2 separate regions of the Homo sapiens genome follow, and region 1 is linked to region 2. A link means that fine-mapping ties the variant in region 2 to the expression of a gene that starts in the linked region. Tissue or cell type: fibroblasts. Region 2 holds a variant in brackets; the other region holds the start of a gene. All regions are shown on one strand. Distances are between the middles of the regions.

Region 1 (8,109 bases), 120 kb after region 2:
AAGTATGAGAACCAGTCCTTCTCAAACTTTAATGTGCGTAAGAATCACCTGAGGAGCTTGTTAAACTGCAGACTCTAATTCAGCAGGTCTGAGGCGGGGCCTGAGAGCCTATATTTGTAATGATTTCCCAGGTGATGTCTTCTGCAGACCACAATGCAAGAGTTTCTCAAATCGGTTGTTTACTGAAATTTAGGGTGCTCATAAAATTCAGATTCCAAGGCACTACCCTAGCCCAAATTATCCAAATCTCAAGAGAAAGATTCAGTAGACTATAACCAGTGGTTCGCCACCTTGGCTGCACATTAAACTCACCTGGTGAGCTTTTACTAATCCTGATTCCCAGGCCCCATCCAAGACCCCATTCAAGTCCAATTAAATTAGAATCTCTGGAGTTGGGGCTCAGGCATCCATATTTTTAATAACTTCCCAGTGATTCCAATGTGCAGCCAAAGTTAAGAATGACTGCTCTGGAGTCTAACTAGCTCAACACCTGGCACAGTGGATCCCTTTATAGTAGCAAACAGGTTCCTATAAAATAGCTATCTGGGCTCCCTACATAAATCCAAGAGTGCTGATTTTGAATATCAAAATGCAGTAAAGTTAAGTTTTCCTCATGTCTTTAACCAGATTTCTGTGCACAAACTTGCCTGTACAATGCTTTCTGCAATTGGGTAGGTAATCAAAACATGGGGGCAACAGTGAAGAATTTGTATCCATACAGCTTGTTCATATATTGACATCCCCTCAATACTGAGTGGAAGGATAACTAACTGATGGATCTACAGCTTCTAAACCCATAAAACGAGGATTTCACCAGTTACAGACATTCTGAGAGAAAAGTCCTGGGAAAGGATGAAAAGAGTGTGCGTTTACGTATGAGAAGTTAAAACTGTCAAAAGCACAACATCTGGTGGGCAGAGACATGACCTGAAACACACTGCTCATGACATGATAATAACTATGAGAAAAAAAAATCCCAATATGTCTGTTTATGTCTTATGGCACTTAGGATAAAGCAACACTAATAAGTACACAATGCTGTTAAATATGTAAAACAGAAAGACAAATGTGTGGTAGTTACTAAGGCACTGTTGAAATGCTTAGTTATGTCCCTCCCATAATCAGGAAGTTTTCCTGAATTTTCCACAGTACACCTCAAAAATGAGTTGAAGATAAATGGAAATAAGACAGTCCATTTTCCACTTAAGTGAACTTTCATTCTCCACTTGGTCATGTTTAGTGTCTACTCTACATTAGTTGTTTTATAGAATACATGACACATTCAAGGTCTGCTAGATGATAATAGTTATTATTCTTCCACCACCGTTTCAACATATCCACAGTGGTCAAAGTGTGTCCTATCATCTGCTTAATTCCATGAAAAAGAAATCCAGGGGCTGGGGTGTTTGAATAGAATAATATCTAAATACGTGTGCAAAGTGGCTACTGTTAAAATGATATTTTCAAAAGCATTTTCTGTATGAACTGGTCAAGCTCACTTTCCTTTTAAAATTCTTGTTATAGTCATTGAGTTAACCCAAACTCACTGTAAAATGTGTGAAAATAGCACCTCCTGAAAGTGTGTTCTCATATGCTTTGGAGCAATGGAGCGTGAATACTAAAGCAGCCTTTGCCAAACTCATGTTAACAGCTCAAGAACTAAACAGGAGTGAATTTTTGCAGTCCCATGACTTTGCAGAGCCAACCTAAGTATCATCCCAGGACTAGCTTTAATACATCACAGACATCCAAGAGAAGGCATAAAAGTCACAAATAAGTGACTCAAGCTAATAAATATTTCATAGATTTATTTTACATGGCAGTCTTTTCAAAATGAATTTTACTTCTTAACCAAAAAAATGAATTGGCTAAATAAAAGTGTGGACTTAGGATTTAAGCTTCTAGAATTAACACTATGAAATTTATAAAGATATTTATTTGACGAAGTGTTCTCCTGGATGCTCTTTCATGCACTTCTCATAAACCAATGCCCAAAGATTAACCAAGTCTAAAAGAAAATGCACAGACCACAGAAGAGTCATACAAAATTAAAGACATTTAAAGAATGAAAGCCAAAGAAAACAAACAGTACAAATGCACAATTTCCAGGACACTTTATTGTAATTTCCACTTTACATATTAATTTAATATTTTAGTCTAGGCAGAAATGTTTATACTTATACAACAGTAGTCCAATCCTCTAATCTCACAAAATGAAAAGGAGCAGTTTTAAAAGAACATCAATTCAGGTATTTATGATATGGGGGACAAGGGGCACTTGTCTTAGCTGGAAAAGGGGCTGATGCCTTTCAGTACGAGTTTCACTGAAATTTTTTCTGTATTATTTTTCTTGTTGATGCTAAGTACTCAAATAAAAGCAATTGCACTTTTTCTCATTCTGCCCTCTCTTGGTCTTTACATTCTGTCTAGCATTTAACGCAAAAAGTCAGTTTACATTCAGTTTACACATTAAAAAAAAAAAACCATATGCCCCACCTCCCACACATCCAAATGGACAGGGATTAGAATTAACCTGGCTTTTAGCTGTAACAGTGCTATTTTAAAATTTTTCAACCACACACTTGAAGGGTAAAATAATTTAAGATACAAAACCAAAGGAAACCATAACAATTCCTACACATTTACTATTTAACTGTTCTCAAATCATCAAGTATAACATGGATTTCTTAAAAAGTGAAATCGACACAAAAGCGAATGCACGCTTAATGTACAAACTGACCGTGGCTCTGTGGGGACAGTTCTCTTTGAATGAGCTATTATCCAGACGGTGGAATGGAAAAAAAAAAAAAAAAGGTCGCACTCTTCAAATGTGAGGAAGCCGGCAGTGCGCTCGCTACACGAGAAACACATTTTAATGGGTGTATTTGGATAAAAATAAGTAGTAAGGGAAAAATGTGTTTTAAGAAACCTCCCCCCTTCCCAGGGCACAAGAAAACCCAGAGGAGAAGATGGGTAACCTCACAAGCTCCAGAGCTAAGTTCCATCACTAACAGAAGTTGGATAGTTGCTATTTTTCATCCTGCAATGGGATAGTAGTTCTCCATGTGCAAGATACGCGGGGCGGGAATACTGGCGGGGCTTTCACTTGGGGTAATGGAAACCAAAGTGAGGAGAGGTCAACACCTTGAGTAACCCAGATCTCCAAAACCGGGGCAGGGTGAGGGGTGGTGGGGGTGGTGAAGGAGACAAGTAAAGGAGTCAAAACTCCTCGAAGTCATCGCAAAGAGAAAGCTAACACCTCTAGGAGCCACGGGGCCATTCCTTGCAGCAGCACCCTGCTCCAAGTGTGGGGTGCCTGCCTCGGAGGGCAAAAAGCGCAGGGTGCCCTTAGTTCAGTTGAGTAGCTCCGGGGACCCGGGCAGCGAGAGGGCAGGGGCATCCGCCGGCCGGGAGGCGGACTCGCACTTTGCCTCAACTCTGAGCCCCATCCCGAGCGCAAGGGAGAGGGCGGCGGAGGGCACGGTACTCACTAGGGCTCGTTGGTGAATCGGGGGGTCCGGGGCTGCTGGTATCCATACAGGTGACAGTAGAGCACATCGAAGCAAAAGCAGCACATCTCTGCTGACACCACCATCTTCCGGGAGCCCGGCGATGAGGACGAGGCGGCGGACGATGAGGAGGGTGAGGAAGAGGTGGCGGCGGCCGGGGTAGAAAGTAGGGTCCCCACTCCGCAGCTCGGAGGTGGCGACAGGGCGATCCCCCCGCCGCCGCCGCCGCAGCCCTGGGGGGGAGAGAGGGTACAGCCGCTGCCGCTACCTCCTCCGGTTAGACCTCCCAGCCCGTTGAGCCGCGTACCGGCGCCTCCTAGTCCCAGCTCCCCAGCTCGGCACTGGCTCTCTCCGCTGCAGTGGGAGGAGGAGGAGGCGCCACCACCGCCACCCGAGCCAGAGGGGGGCGAACTGGACAGTTTCTGCTTCTTCACCCCGCAGCAACCCGCCGCCATCTTGGAACAGTCTCCCCCACGCAGCGTTTCCGACCCATAAGTGAGGCGAGCTGGCGGCGGGGGCGAGCACGCTGCGGCTCAGGCCGCCGGGGGCGCGCCAGAGGCTGGCGGGGCGCGCGCGCGCCGCTCCCGGCCCCGTCTGCCTAGCCACGCGGCTGCCCCGCGCGCGCCCCCGCCTCGGTGCGCGCTCCTCGCTTTCGCGGCTGGGCGCCTCGCGCCTGTCCCGCCCGACTCGTGCCTCTTCTGAGCCGCAGCCCCAGCCCCAGCCCCAATCTCAATCTCTCCGGCCGGCAGAGGTTGGAAGACAGGAAGCCGATTAGAAAGGAAGGTGAAGGAAACAAGAGTCAGACAGCGGAAAGTGGGAGCAAAGGGAGAAGGTGGGCACGCCCGGGAAGGAAGGAGGGAAAGGGAAACTAGTGGGGGTAGGGGGGAAGAAAGGAGAAAGTCCGAAGTAAGCATCCAGGTCCCAAAGCACAGCTCAGTAACCCCCCGCCGCAAGCAGTATTAATGACACTTAAGCCCAGTTACGTGGAACCTGAGCCACCCGGCCTCAAATACACGGGTTTCTGAACTGTTGGAGTGTGAGCGAGCAGGTGCCCAGAGCTCCATACCTGAGACCGCCCCTGTAAAGTGTGTACAAAGCAATCCAGGAAATGGCCACGCTGCTGTCTTTTTAATTCCAGCCTAAGCACACACCAGGGTACTCTTTCCTTTCCTTATGGAGAAATATTCAAGTCCGACTGAATCTATGTATCTTGTACTTGTTCCCCCAACTTACCCTCCTTGCCCCGTTTAAACATTTAAAAGCCAAAAATAAAGTCCTAACTAATACTTCACTGGTTCAAAGATACTAATTGTGCTTTGGGACTTGCAGTGGTGGACTTTTCTGGTTTTGGTTTTTATTTCTTGGCTTGGGTACAAAGCAATTAGGAATATTATCTGTAGTGCTCAGATCTTAGAGATAAATAGGGAAGGTAATGTACTTAGTCACAAATTGAAAGATTTTGTTCAAGTATATAATTAGCTCTTAATATTCATTTTTAAAATTTCTCAATTAAATGCTTGGATGGATGAGGAGACATATGAGTCAGTCCCTTTCTGGGTGCCTAAGTGCAGCTTAATAATAAAAATAATGACAATAATCAAATGTTAAAATTCGTAGAAATGAACGTGATAGAAATAGAAAGCGTAAGTTATTTGCATTGTATCTACACCATGCTAAAACATCTAGATAAAGTCAGGTATCTGCATATTTAAAAACTGCAGATTGATTTTTGTCACCTTTTTTCTACATGCGTGGGATCTTGCAGATAGCTGGGGGCTGTTCATTCCACTCAGGGAATAAAAACAAAACAATTTATTCATTCAGTAATATTGAGCCTCTGCACCATACTATGTGCACAACACTATACTTCTGTTGAAATCCAGGGCGTACTCAGGAAGTATGCCTCCCGCTCTAAAAGAGTTTATGAATTAAGTCAGATACATGCACATAATCAGATAAATAGCTATTATAGTATGTATTGAACACTTTTTAGGTCTCCAATACCATACCTCGTCCTACCCCATAATCCTTCAGAATAAGATACTATCTCGTTTTATCTTCACAACAATGCTCTGAGGTTACTCATTAACAGATGAGGCTATTAAACCTCAGAAGTAATTTGCCCAACATCACACACCTAGAAAGTAACAGAGCTAGGATTGGAATGCTGGCATGTCTGATTCCAAAAACCATGCCATTATACTACATTGCCTCTCACTAACAATATATGATAACAAGGCTAAGGATGGACAAAAGATAGTGACATTACACTCCAGCAGGTGGAACCGAGGTTAAACAGAAATAAGAACTTAGTTTTTATGGAAAGATTGAGAGACACTGAAATATGTTACCAAGGAAAGATGAAAAATCTCCTTCCAAAAAGATTTTATGAGATAGATAGATGAAAATCTGGAATGGTTAGATGCAGCCTAAAGACAAAAGGGATAGTTTAATTGGTCGGTGATATGTAATTTCATCCTCTCAAACTTCATCACTGTTAGAATTAACCTTAAGTATGAAACAAATAACAATTCTTTGTCAATTACTAGTGGAGTAAAAAAATGCATTAATATTTTGTCTATGTTACAGAAGAGAAAGCAGATTGGTTTTTTTAAAAAGCACCACAACAACTGGTATGTTAGGGTGTTTTGTACGTTAGGGTGTTTTGTTTTGTACTTTGTCCTTAACTACCACAGGCTACCTTTTAATTTTTTTGAAACTAGACTGAACATAATATCAGACAATAGGTATCGATTTACTCCCCACCCCACTAAAGTGATCATTTCTAGAGTAAAAAACCAGAGCCATTTAATGACATCACAAAACAGTTTAGCACAGGAAGCAAAGTAGGATACCATGGATGGCTGCTTCTGCTAGGGGAATTTAGGAAAGCAGAATGTAATCTCCCAATTTAGAATTTGGCCAGTAGACAAGAGTCTAACGCCCCTACTCTTGTGAAAAATAGCAAGGAATCTTTAATAAGCACCAGTAGTCATGTCCTTAGTTCTGCATTTCATCTAAAAGACAAAGCACTATCATGGCTATCCTGCCAGGCTAAGGGACTGATGCAATGGGAAAACCCAAAGACAAGGACACCCCAGCTGAATTACAAAAATAGCTTTTCCCTAGAGGATTTTCAATTCCAATTCCAAACCTCACTAGCATAAAGAAAATAGACAAACACAAATGTGATAATTGCAGAAAATACATCATTACCTGACCGCTAGGGGTTATTATCTAAGTACTTTGTTGTATTGGCTGACTAAAAGGGGGAAAAACACTAACCTTTATCTTTGTGTTAACTTCTCCTGAGCCTGGCTCATCTCCCATACTAACCTTGAGCCTCAAGATGCTTTATAAATCGCTTGGCAAGTAGTGGTGATGGTGGTAATGTCTCCTTTAGGCATTTGAGGAAATGCCTCTCCTGGCCTTGTTTTCTTGTAAAGTCACCAGCATAAAAAGAAACATATTTCATTCAAACATAAACTAAATCCACAGAACAAATTCTGTGAAAAAAATTTTTTTACATCTATGCAAAGTGCACACTGGGTGGATAGAAAAACTGACCTTGCTCAGGATTCTCTTGACTTGAAGTATAAAGGTCAAAATATGATAGAGCACATGGTTTCTACCCACTGCTGATACTGGACTGCAGTGATAATACCCTCCAGAGGAAACTTTAAGTTGCCTTCCTCTCTTTGTAACTGACTGTCAATCTGGGAGCTGAAGATTCCACTTAAAAAAAAAAAATAGGCCATAGTCTCTTTGTCAACAAAGCACATTCAAATTGTGAGCATTTTTATTTCTGCAATTTAGAGGCAGCTCTAAATTGCTGTTAACTAACTCCTGTCAAAGGCTTTGTTTTACAACTGTGGAAAAAAATACTTGGACAGAGGTTATGCATATTATTTATTGTGCAGCAAAGCTAGTAATTGAATTAAACCCAATAGTTAGTTAATATATTATCATTGCCTCAATTTGTTCTCGTGTTTACAACATAGTTATTTTTTCATTTCAGAAAATAAGAATAATTATAATTCGATGAGGTGGTGAACTTAATGTTGCAAAATTATTTTCTTAGGTTTCTGGGGTTGTGGGTAAAAGGAGGAACATTCACATATTTCATTGAAAAAAAAACCTGCCATTTATGCCCAAACAAGTGTTATTTTTATCCTCTGTCATCAAACTTTCTCAACTGTCATCCTTGAACAACTGCAGAATGTAATATTCTTAGCTACCACTTTGATCTAACCTTGTACACGTATAACACATGGTTGTTGTGGTGGAGGTGGTAATCAGTTCCCTTTTATATTTGAATGAATACGTGAGTAAATACTGAAATTCTTTACCTACTTTTCAATTCAAATTCGTAAATCAGTTTTTGTTTTTCTGATTACAAAACAGATCCTTCCTTCCAAAATTCTTTCTTTATCTAATGAACACATTTATGAGCAAAAGCACCATGATCTACCTTGGATTGTTTTCTAGTTGTTTCATTTACATCTTCTATTGTCAACTTGAGTACAAACTAATTGAATGTTGTTTTGCTACCTATTTCCTTTAGAGAAAGTTCTATAAACTCCTTAATGAGATTTAGATA
Region 2 (8,109 bases):
GCTCCAGCAGTGGTTTTGATTGTCCTGTGGGATCCTGGGGTTCTGTCGGAACAGCCCCAAGTTTCCATAAACTTTTTTTTTTTTTTTTTTTGAGATGATGGAGTCTTGCTCTGTTGCCCAGGCTGGAGTGTAGTAGCGCAATCTCGGCTCACTGCAACCTCTGCCTCCTGGGTTCAAGCGATTCTCCTGCCTTGGCCTCCTGAGTCGCTGGGATTATAGGCGTGCGCCACCATGCCTGACTAATTTTTGTATTTTTAGTAGAGACAGGGTTTCGCCATGTTGGCCACGTTGGTCTCGAACTCCAGACCTCGGGTGATTTGCCTGCCTGGGCCTCCCAAAGTGCTGGGATTATAGGCGTGAGCCACTGTGCCCGGCCCTCTATGAACATTTAATTCAAAAAATACGTGTGTGTTGAAATACATAATATTTTGAAACTGTGATAATAAAAACAGAAACAAAAAACACTTAACAACACCTGGTAAGTTAGTTATATACAGAATGGCAACTGAAGACCACCAGTGGGTTAGCAGAAGCCATCAGGTTACTTACTTGTCTTCAAACCTCAGGAGTTTTATGCTTCTCCTGCCCGAACTTCTTGTAAGCTTCAGATAGCTGTGGACTGTGCTGGGTTTTTACACTTTAGACCTATATGTACACACTTTCATAAAATTAATCTGATCTCCGTGCAAATCAGGACCTTCTTGTTGTTGTAGAGCTAAAACATAGAAATAGACCGCTGAGACTATTCATTCAACCCAGTTGCAACATTTTATAGTTATCAAAACAACCTCGTTCTCCTTAATAAGTAGCTTGTATACATTTGTGCTTAATAGCGATGAAATAGTTCTTTCAATCTGATTTTTAACATAACGAGGTGCCAACTAAGATTCTGAGTAAAAAACAAAGAGCTTCTCCCACCATGGAGGGAGACTAAAGGGGGAACAAATTACCCGCCCCTTGTGACTTGGATGTGTCCTTTTAGAATGGGAGCATGAGCTCAAAGATGCCATGGCAGTTGGTGAGCACGGAGGCATGTAATTCAGCCACTGCCCAGCTGTGTGCTGCAGACAGAGAGCATACTCTACATCTCACCTCTGTCAAATTAAGTAATCATCTGTCATGATGGAAAGCTGTAAGTGCAGGTCAGTGTTGGTTTACGTATAGCTGCACCCTCCACCGGCTCTCTGGGTGGGTCCATTTAAACAATTTGAGATATATATAGTCAGTACCTTCCAAACATAATACATTAAGAGGTAATTTTTAATTTTTTAATTGATACAAAATTGTACATATTTATGAGCGACACAGTGATGTTTCAATACATACAATGTATAGTGGTCAAATTAGGGTAATTAGCATATGTGTCACTGCAGACATTTATCATTTCTTTATGTTGGGAACATTCAAAATCCTGTCTTCTAGTTATACAAAGATATATCTTAAATTCATAACTATAGACACCCTACAGTGCTATAGAACACCAGAACTTATTCCTCCAGTCTAGTTGTATTTTTCTATCCTTTAACCCAGTGGTCCCCAACCTTTTTGGCACCAGGGACCGGTTTCATGGAAGACAGTTTTTCCACGGATGGGGTGGGTGGCAGTAGATTCTCATAAGCAGCACACAACCTAGATCCCTCACATGTGCAGTTCACAATAGGGTTCATGCTCCTATGAGAATCTAGTCCCACCACTGATCTGACACGAGGTGGAGCTCAGGCGGTAATGCTTGCTTGCCCACTGCTCACTTCCTGCTGTGCAACCCCGTTCCTAACAGGCCACGGACCAGTTCTGGTCCACGGCCCGGGGGTTGGGGATCCCTACTTTAACCAACCTCTCCCTTTTCACTCTCCCAACCCTTCCCAGCTTCTAGTAACCACTATTCTACTCTCCACTTCTATGAGATCAACTTCTTTAGCTCGCACATGAGTGAGAACATGCGGTATTTACCTTCCTGTGTCTGGCTTATTTAACATAATGTCCTCCAAGCTGATCCACGTTGCTGCAAATGACAGGATTTCAATCTTATTTATGGCTGAATAATATCCCATTATATACACAGCAATTTTTATTAAGGGGTCATTTCTAAACAAGGTTGTAACCAAGCGCTTGGGGTGAGGATGTAGATTGGCTTCAGAACAGTGCTTGAGACCTAATGTGATTCCCTCCAATTCTTGAAAGAGTTCTTCCAACAAGTTTGAGGTTTGAACACGAGATTGTCCCATGGGGCTACAGGTGTCAAGGCAGGCCTTTTAATGCAGTAGCCAAAAATAGTATATCCAGGGCTTTCCTCACTTGCATCCTCCCATTCATTTCTTCCTCCTGTAGGTGAAAAGCTTGAGCATACAGATGGGAAGCTATGAGAGCTTACCCAACCCAAACCCATACTTATCTTGGCTTATGTGGTTGAAGCTGCAGGAAGTGGGAGAAGCCATTCTCTGAATGGGCAGTCATTCACTGGCTGTCCTGGCTGGCAGCTCTGAATCCCGGTGTGACTTCTCCACCGCAGACTTCTCCTTACCTCACACTGATAGGACCCCTTAGATAGGGTAGTATTTCCCAGCAACAGAGGGGCACTGCTTCATCCTACACGCCCATACTTGCCCTCGGAAGCAGTAAAGCTATTTACACAGGGTCCAGAGGGGCATGAAATCTAAAGTGGAAATGCTGAAACTCTGGGAAGAATTTAGGTAGGTGGAGTGTGATTACTGAAGTTGAAATTTGTCCAGACCAGAGTTAACCACTAATGCTGTAAAAAAGAATGCTGTGGGCTCATTAAACTACTTCATTCTACCTGAACCTATTAATATGGTCGAAATCATTGAAAAATCTTATGTCCCATTAAACATGAATGATGAAAATAGGTAAAACCTGAGCAGATGGCTGCCTTTATGGAGCACTGGTTAAAACCACAATAGTCCTCTAGGATCTAAGAACACTTTTTAGCCACTGTGATTGACATAAGCACGTGTCATAAAATTTACATGGTTACCAGGGCTTTGGGGCAATGTAACAGAAATTGTCCTGGATATATTCAACTAGCAGCTAA[T/C]CTTGAAATGTGCGTGAGACAGCAAATGTTTTAGAAAGAGCCAGAGGTATTTCCATACACAAGTACAATGTCCTTGGTAGCCTTTCCATAGAGAAAGGGATAAGGCAACAGTAGGCAGAGGCAGCACCCCAAGAGATTCCTTTCTTGACATAGGCTCTTATCTGGCCCTTGAAAGTCAATACCACCAGTTGCCCTACCCTACAATCCAGGTGTTTCCCCCAAGCCCAAGTTGGGGGTACCAATCTGGAACTGGAAAAAATAGCTGGTAATAAGTGTAAGCGTGTGGTATGCCTAGTGTGTGTATGAGTACGTACAAGCTCTGGGTGACCACATCTTGAGCATTTTCAGACTCTGTCCTATACTCAGAAAATGGGCAAGCCTTGATGGTAGGAGAAGGGGTCCCCATATCAGATGATTTAACTGAATAGCACTGCTACTGCCCCTCACCAGCTCACAAAGAGGAAATGCCCAATAACCACTGACTGATTTGGAGCGGACCTAAGCACAGCTAAGCTCCCGCCAGAATTCAAGTCTGATATTTGCCTGAGTTCTGTGGCAAAGGATCTGAAGGATCCTTAAAGGATCAATGTGGCCAGGTTAGGGTGTCCAAATAAAGGCTAATCTATATCAGCAAGCCAGGATTCAGAGATAGACAAAAGGATGACATTGGCAAATCATATGGCAGGGAGTGGCTACAAGCAGGTAAGGTTTCCCAAGTGCTAGTTTGGCAATAAATCAGTATCTGTTCCTAACTATATTCCTTCAGAGCCTTCAACTGTTAACCTTTTAGTAAGAAGTACCGACGAGACCAAGATCCTATGATGAGAGAGGTTAAACTTAAAAAAGAAACATAAAATGATAACTCGGTTTTAACATTTTATTGGGTAAATGATTTTAAAGGTAATAACAATAGTGTCAAAACTACTACAATATCTTTCCACAGCCATACCTTACAGACCCACATAAACCTTCTCATATTTTTTCTTTTTGCTCATATTTAATATTGTAAAGCCATACATGTCATATAAAATGCCCATTTCCAATAGTTTCTTCAAACTATTAAGCAATTAAATGTGGAAGGAAGGAGGGCCTAGTTATACTGGAAGGGGTTTCAGGTAATCTGTGATGTCTTACGGTAATCAAAAAACAGGTTACTAAGAAAGAAGGAAAAGAGGAGCTACTCCAGGTAGCTTTTTGCTCATTACAAGTCTCACCATTGTATCACCAAGAACTCATTATGCTGGTGACAGATTCAAAGTAATTTTGGGGAACATATAAAACACTAAAATAACTTAGAAACTAGATCCAAATATTTCAAAAGTAATCAACTTTGATATACAAAAGTAGTCAGAGGTGGTTACAAAAGTTTGTTTGCTCAGTGCGTCTATGTACCAGCGCAGTTACTGGGTAGAGCAAAATAAAAGGTTCATTTTCTTCTGAAATAGCAATAAAAAACAAGGAAAACATATATTTGTATATAAAGGATCAATGCTGGTCTTAAGAATAATGTCATCAGAAACCCTTAAATCGAGAGGCACACAACGGGTTTCCACTTTTAAAAAATAAAAGGAAAGTCACCAGTTTATTTAAATGGAGGAGGTGCTCACACCCCTCAAATAAACTTAATTCATTTTAACATCACTAGCAAAAATCACTTAGAAACTGTACAAAAATAAAAAAGTTAACACATTTAATCCTGCAAGGTTTTTGTAAGGACTGGAAGGCAGGCTTTTGAAGCAGCATTTGGGCATGGCTGGGGGCTTCTTTGGTTTGATCTAACACACATAAGAGATGGAACCTATTCCAGATGACAGTTTCAAATTTCCTGCACATTTGAAGACAAGATAAGAGGCCAGTATACAAACTTCCGGTGTGCTGGGCACTGGGACTGTATGTGCTGGACTGAAAATCTTACAACTGCTTTAAGCTTTAAGGGTGAGGGGAAGCAAGCCTTGCACTTCCTCCATCAATTTCACTGACCTCTCGTGTTAGGGGAGACTACAGAGGGTAGTAGCACATTCTCGTGCAGTCAGAAGGCCACTTGAGGGGTGGGGGACAATTTGTTCTTTTAGAATCTGGTACCTGGCTGACCTTGTTTAAGAACAAGAAAACCCTTCCAGAAATGGAAGCCTTTTGCTACATACCAAAGCAAAGTACGTACTATTTCCAAGAGGAAAAATACCCAGTTGCATCTGAAAATGGAAAACTTAAATGGAACGAATTAACATTTAAAAGGGGCTATGTAAACTTTGTGCTACTCAAATGAAGTTCAAGTATTACTTCTGAGCTGTTTAAAGATCACTGAACTCATACAATATTCTGATGATAAGAGTGCAATTCACATTTGTGTTTCTGAACAAATAAATCACAACTGGCTAGAACACAACCTGTGCAATCAGAATCTTCGTCTGAGTTAAAGACATGCTACATATTTCAACATGTTCAAAGTTAATTCATACCACATAATTAACAGCTTTGTATATACGACAAAGGTGAAAGGGTCTAGCATTTGTTTGAAGCACACCATTACAGTTTGTATAACACCCTTTACACTACAAAGTCTTTTAGTCAAAAGCTACTTAGAGACAAAAATGCACTTTGCATTACTTGAATACAAAAGGAGACAAAACTATCCTTTTCCCCCAAGCCATGTTGGGAAATATTGCTGACCTCGTCCTTTGAAGCCTGCAGGATGGTTATTTCTTCAGTTTAACGTTATTACACTGCTAAGAAAATCTGTATAACATCTGCATATATCAAGGATTTTAAAAAATCTGATATGATTTTAGAGTCCGCATGACCAGTCACGTGACCTGCTCAAGATTGATTAGCACCGTTAAATAAACACACATATATGTATGTATGTATGTGTAAGTATATGTACACACACACATCTATGTATGTAATAAATCTTTGCTAAAAAAACTTCTAACCATAAGCTCACCCAGGACGAGGAGCCTGTTGAACCGATGAGATGATGGATAAGATGGATTTCACGATAATATTGGTCTATTTTGTCTCTCTTCAGTTTGCTTGTTTTATTTACCTTTTTTTCCTTTTTTTTGTTTTTTGTTTTGTTTTTTTTTTGTTTGTTTTTTTTTGCAGCAGACAATATCATTCAGCTTGTGCTCAGTTTCCCTATAAGGGTAAGAAAAGTTTCCATCAGGTAGCCACTTGTTTTTATACTGAAAGACTAATCTGCTCCAAAATGCTCCCAAGTAGAAATGACAGGACTCAAAATCCCTTTCTAAAGCCCAACAGCTAACTTTTTCTGACTAATCTCTAGCTTCATTGAAACTGGCTACCAAGATTGCATTTCAGGCTAACAATTGGCTTCTTAGTTAAGGCATCACAACTGAAAATGGTTATTTCAACAATGGATGCTGTGGATGAAGGAATACCAACAAACTTCTAAGAACTCTCATCAAAAACTAAAGCAATTTGCTTTGCCCCAGTGGCAGGCAGAAGGAATTTAGCCCATTATCTCACAAACTAGGAAAGGATTTTTGAATTCTGAACTAGCAGTCTGTCACTTGTCACAGTAACTATATGTATAAGCTGTATCATTTTGATATTCAGTGACTTTTTTGTAGTTTTAGAATATATATTCTGCAGCATACTTTAATTCATCACTTGATATGTTGGCTTCCTATTTGAAAAAATTATATATATTTTTCCAAAGACACACAGACACACACACATAACCATAAAATGAAGGTCATCTTCCTCCAGAATAATCTGTCATTTTTCCTGGGGATATATGTATGGACCTCCTATCGACATCAGTAAGTTATCTTTGTATGCATCATGGGAAGACTATACTTGCAGATGAGCTGGGCTCTAACTATAGCATATCTGAATGCCAACTCCATTTTCACAGGTGTGACATAACATCTTATCAATGTAGTAAATGTGTTTCTATCAAAAGTATGTAGTGCAGAAAGAAATTCAAGCTATTTTATAGTATCTCTAAAACTCTAATATTGTCCCCATGACAAACATATCTGAAATCATGGCAAATATGAACTTTTGTTTTACTAAATTATCTTTACCATATCTTTAGATGGTAGCTAAAATGGATTCTAGCCAATCATGACTTATTGAAACCTAGAGCTAACAAATTTAAATTAATATAAAATAGACAAATGTCTCTTATTGGTTATTTGCTCAAAATAATTTTTTTTCAGCTTAAAAAAATACTTAAGAGTAAGGAATTTGTCTAATCTTCTGTTTCACATATAGAAACAATAAAGTTTTACAAGAATATTTTTCTAAATTGCCTTTTTTCTAACCCCTCTTAATTCCACTTAATTATATTCTTCTCAAAGGCACTAAATTCTGTATCTGCTCTCTTCCTAATATTTGCTGCTCATAAAATGTTTCCTGTAGCCTTTTTGAAAGGTAGTTTGTACCTTCTCCAAACAGTGTTTTAGTTTGCAAATTGGTTCTATAAAGTGGTGAGGCAGTCTCTTCTATGATAACCAGCACAATAGGGATAAATGATTTCTCTCTCTCTGTGACAAGCCCTATCACGGACCTTTGAATGCTCACTACTAGAACTAAAGTTCATGTATTTTCACCATGGGAAAAACATATACTTAAGGAGTGAAGACCCAACTACTAGGCTGTCATAGCAAAGTGAATTTCAGACAAAAATCAAGAGTAATATACAAATACCTGAATTTGATATGAATTAATCCCAAACTCAGGTATCAAAAAACAACTATCTTACTGAGGAAAACTAAAGACGAACCTAAGTAAAATCCCTAAAAACTGCACACTTTCTTCCATCCACAGTCAAAGGAAGGGAGGCAGGGAAGGAAGAAGGAAAACGGGAAGGAAGAAGGAAAACAGGAAGCAAAACGGGAAGAAAGGCAAGGAGGACAGAAAAACAGAAACCTGACTGAGACAGCAAAGCAAAATTCTACATAATATTATAAGGAAAAAAAAACCCAAAATTATATATGCTGCAAAAAAAAAATCAACGATCTAAAATAATAAAACAGGATCTTAACAAATGCCATTTTTCTACCCGTTACCATGATGATCTTAGTTGACGA

Direction of the effects. Positions count from the first base shown, and alleles are read on the strand shown. Sizes are in standard deviations (SD) of each study's normalised expression.
As copies of C replace T in region 2, the expression in fibroblasts of the gene that starts at base 3,978 in region 1 goes up (small effect, 0.20 SD a copy in GTEx).

What was found. PIP is the estimated chance that this variant, and not a neighbour inherited with it, causes the effect.
Region 1: AMMECR1 starts here. The variant in region 2 is fine-mapped to the expression of AMMECR1 in fibroblasts (GTEx, PIP 0.98).

What each region holds. Positions count from the first base shown.
Region 1 is chrX:110,314,108-110,322,216 of GRCh38, forward strand. AMMECR1 (AMMECR nuclear protein 1) reads right to left here and starts at 3,978. Exons shown (of 6, transcript NM_015365.3): 1 at 3,492-3,978. The coding sequence starts at 3,964. It overlaps LOC105373312 (a long non-coding RNA gene), which reads left to right and starts at 4,145. Exons shown (of 4, transcript XR_938504.3): 1 at 4,145-4,341. RefSeq lists silencers at 1,539-1,638, 3,491-3,646, 3,691-3,750, 3,944-4,278, 4,011-4,160 and an enhancer at 3,841-3,970.
Region 2 is chrX:110,190,274-110,198,382 of GRCh38, forward strand. It overlaps AMMECR1 (AMMECR nuclear protein 1), which reads right to left. Exons shown (of 6, transcript NM_015365.3): 6 at 3,913-8,109. Among named protein-coding and RNA genes, the nearest start is that of SNORD96B, 31 kb to the right of the region's middle. The variant T/C (reference allele first, on the strand shown) is at 3,050.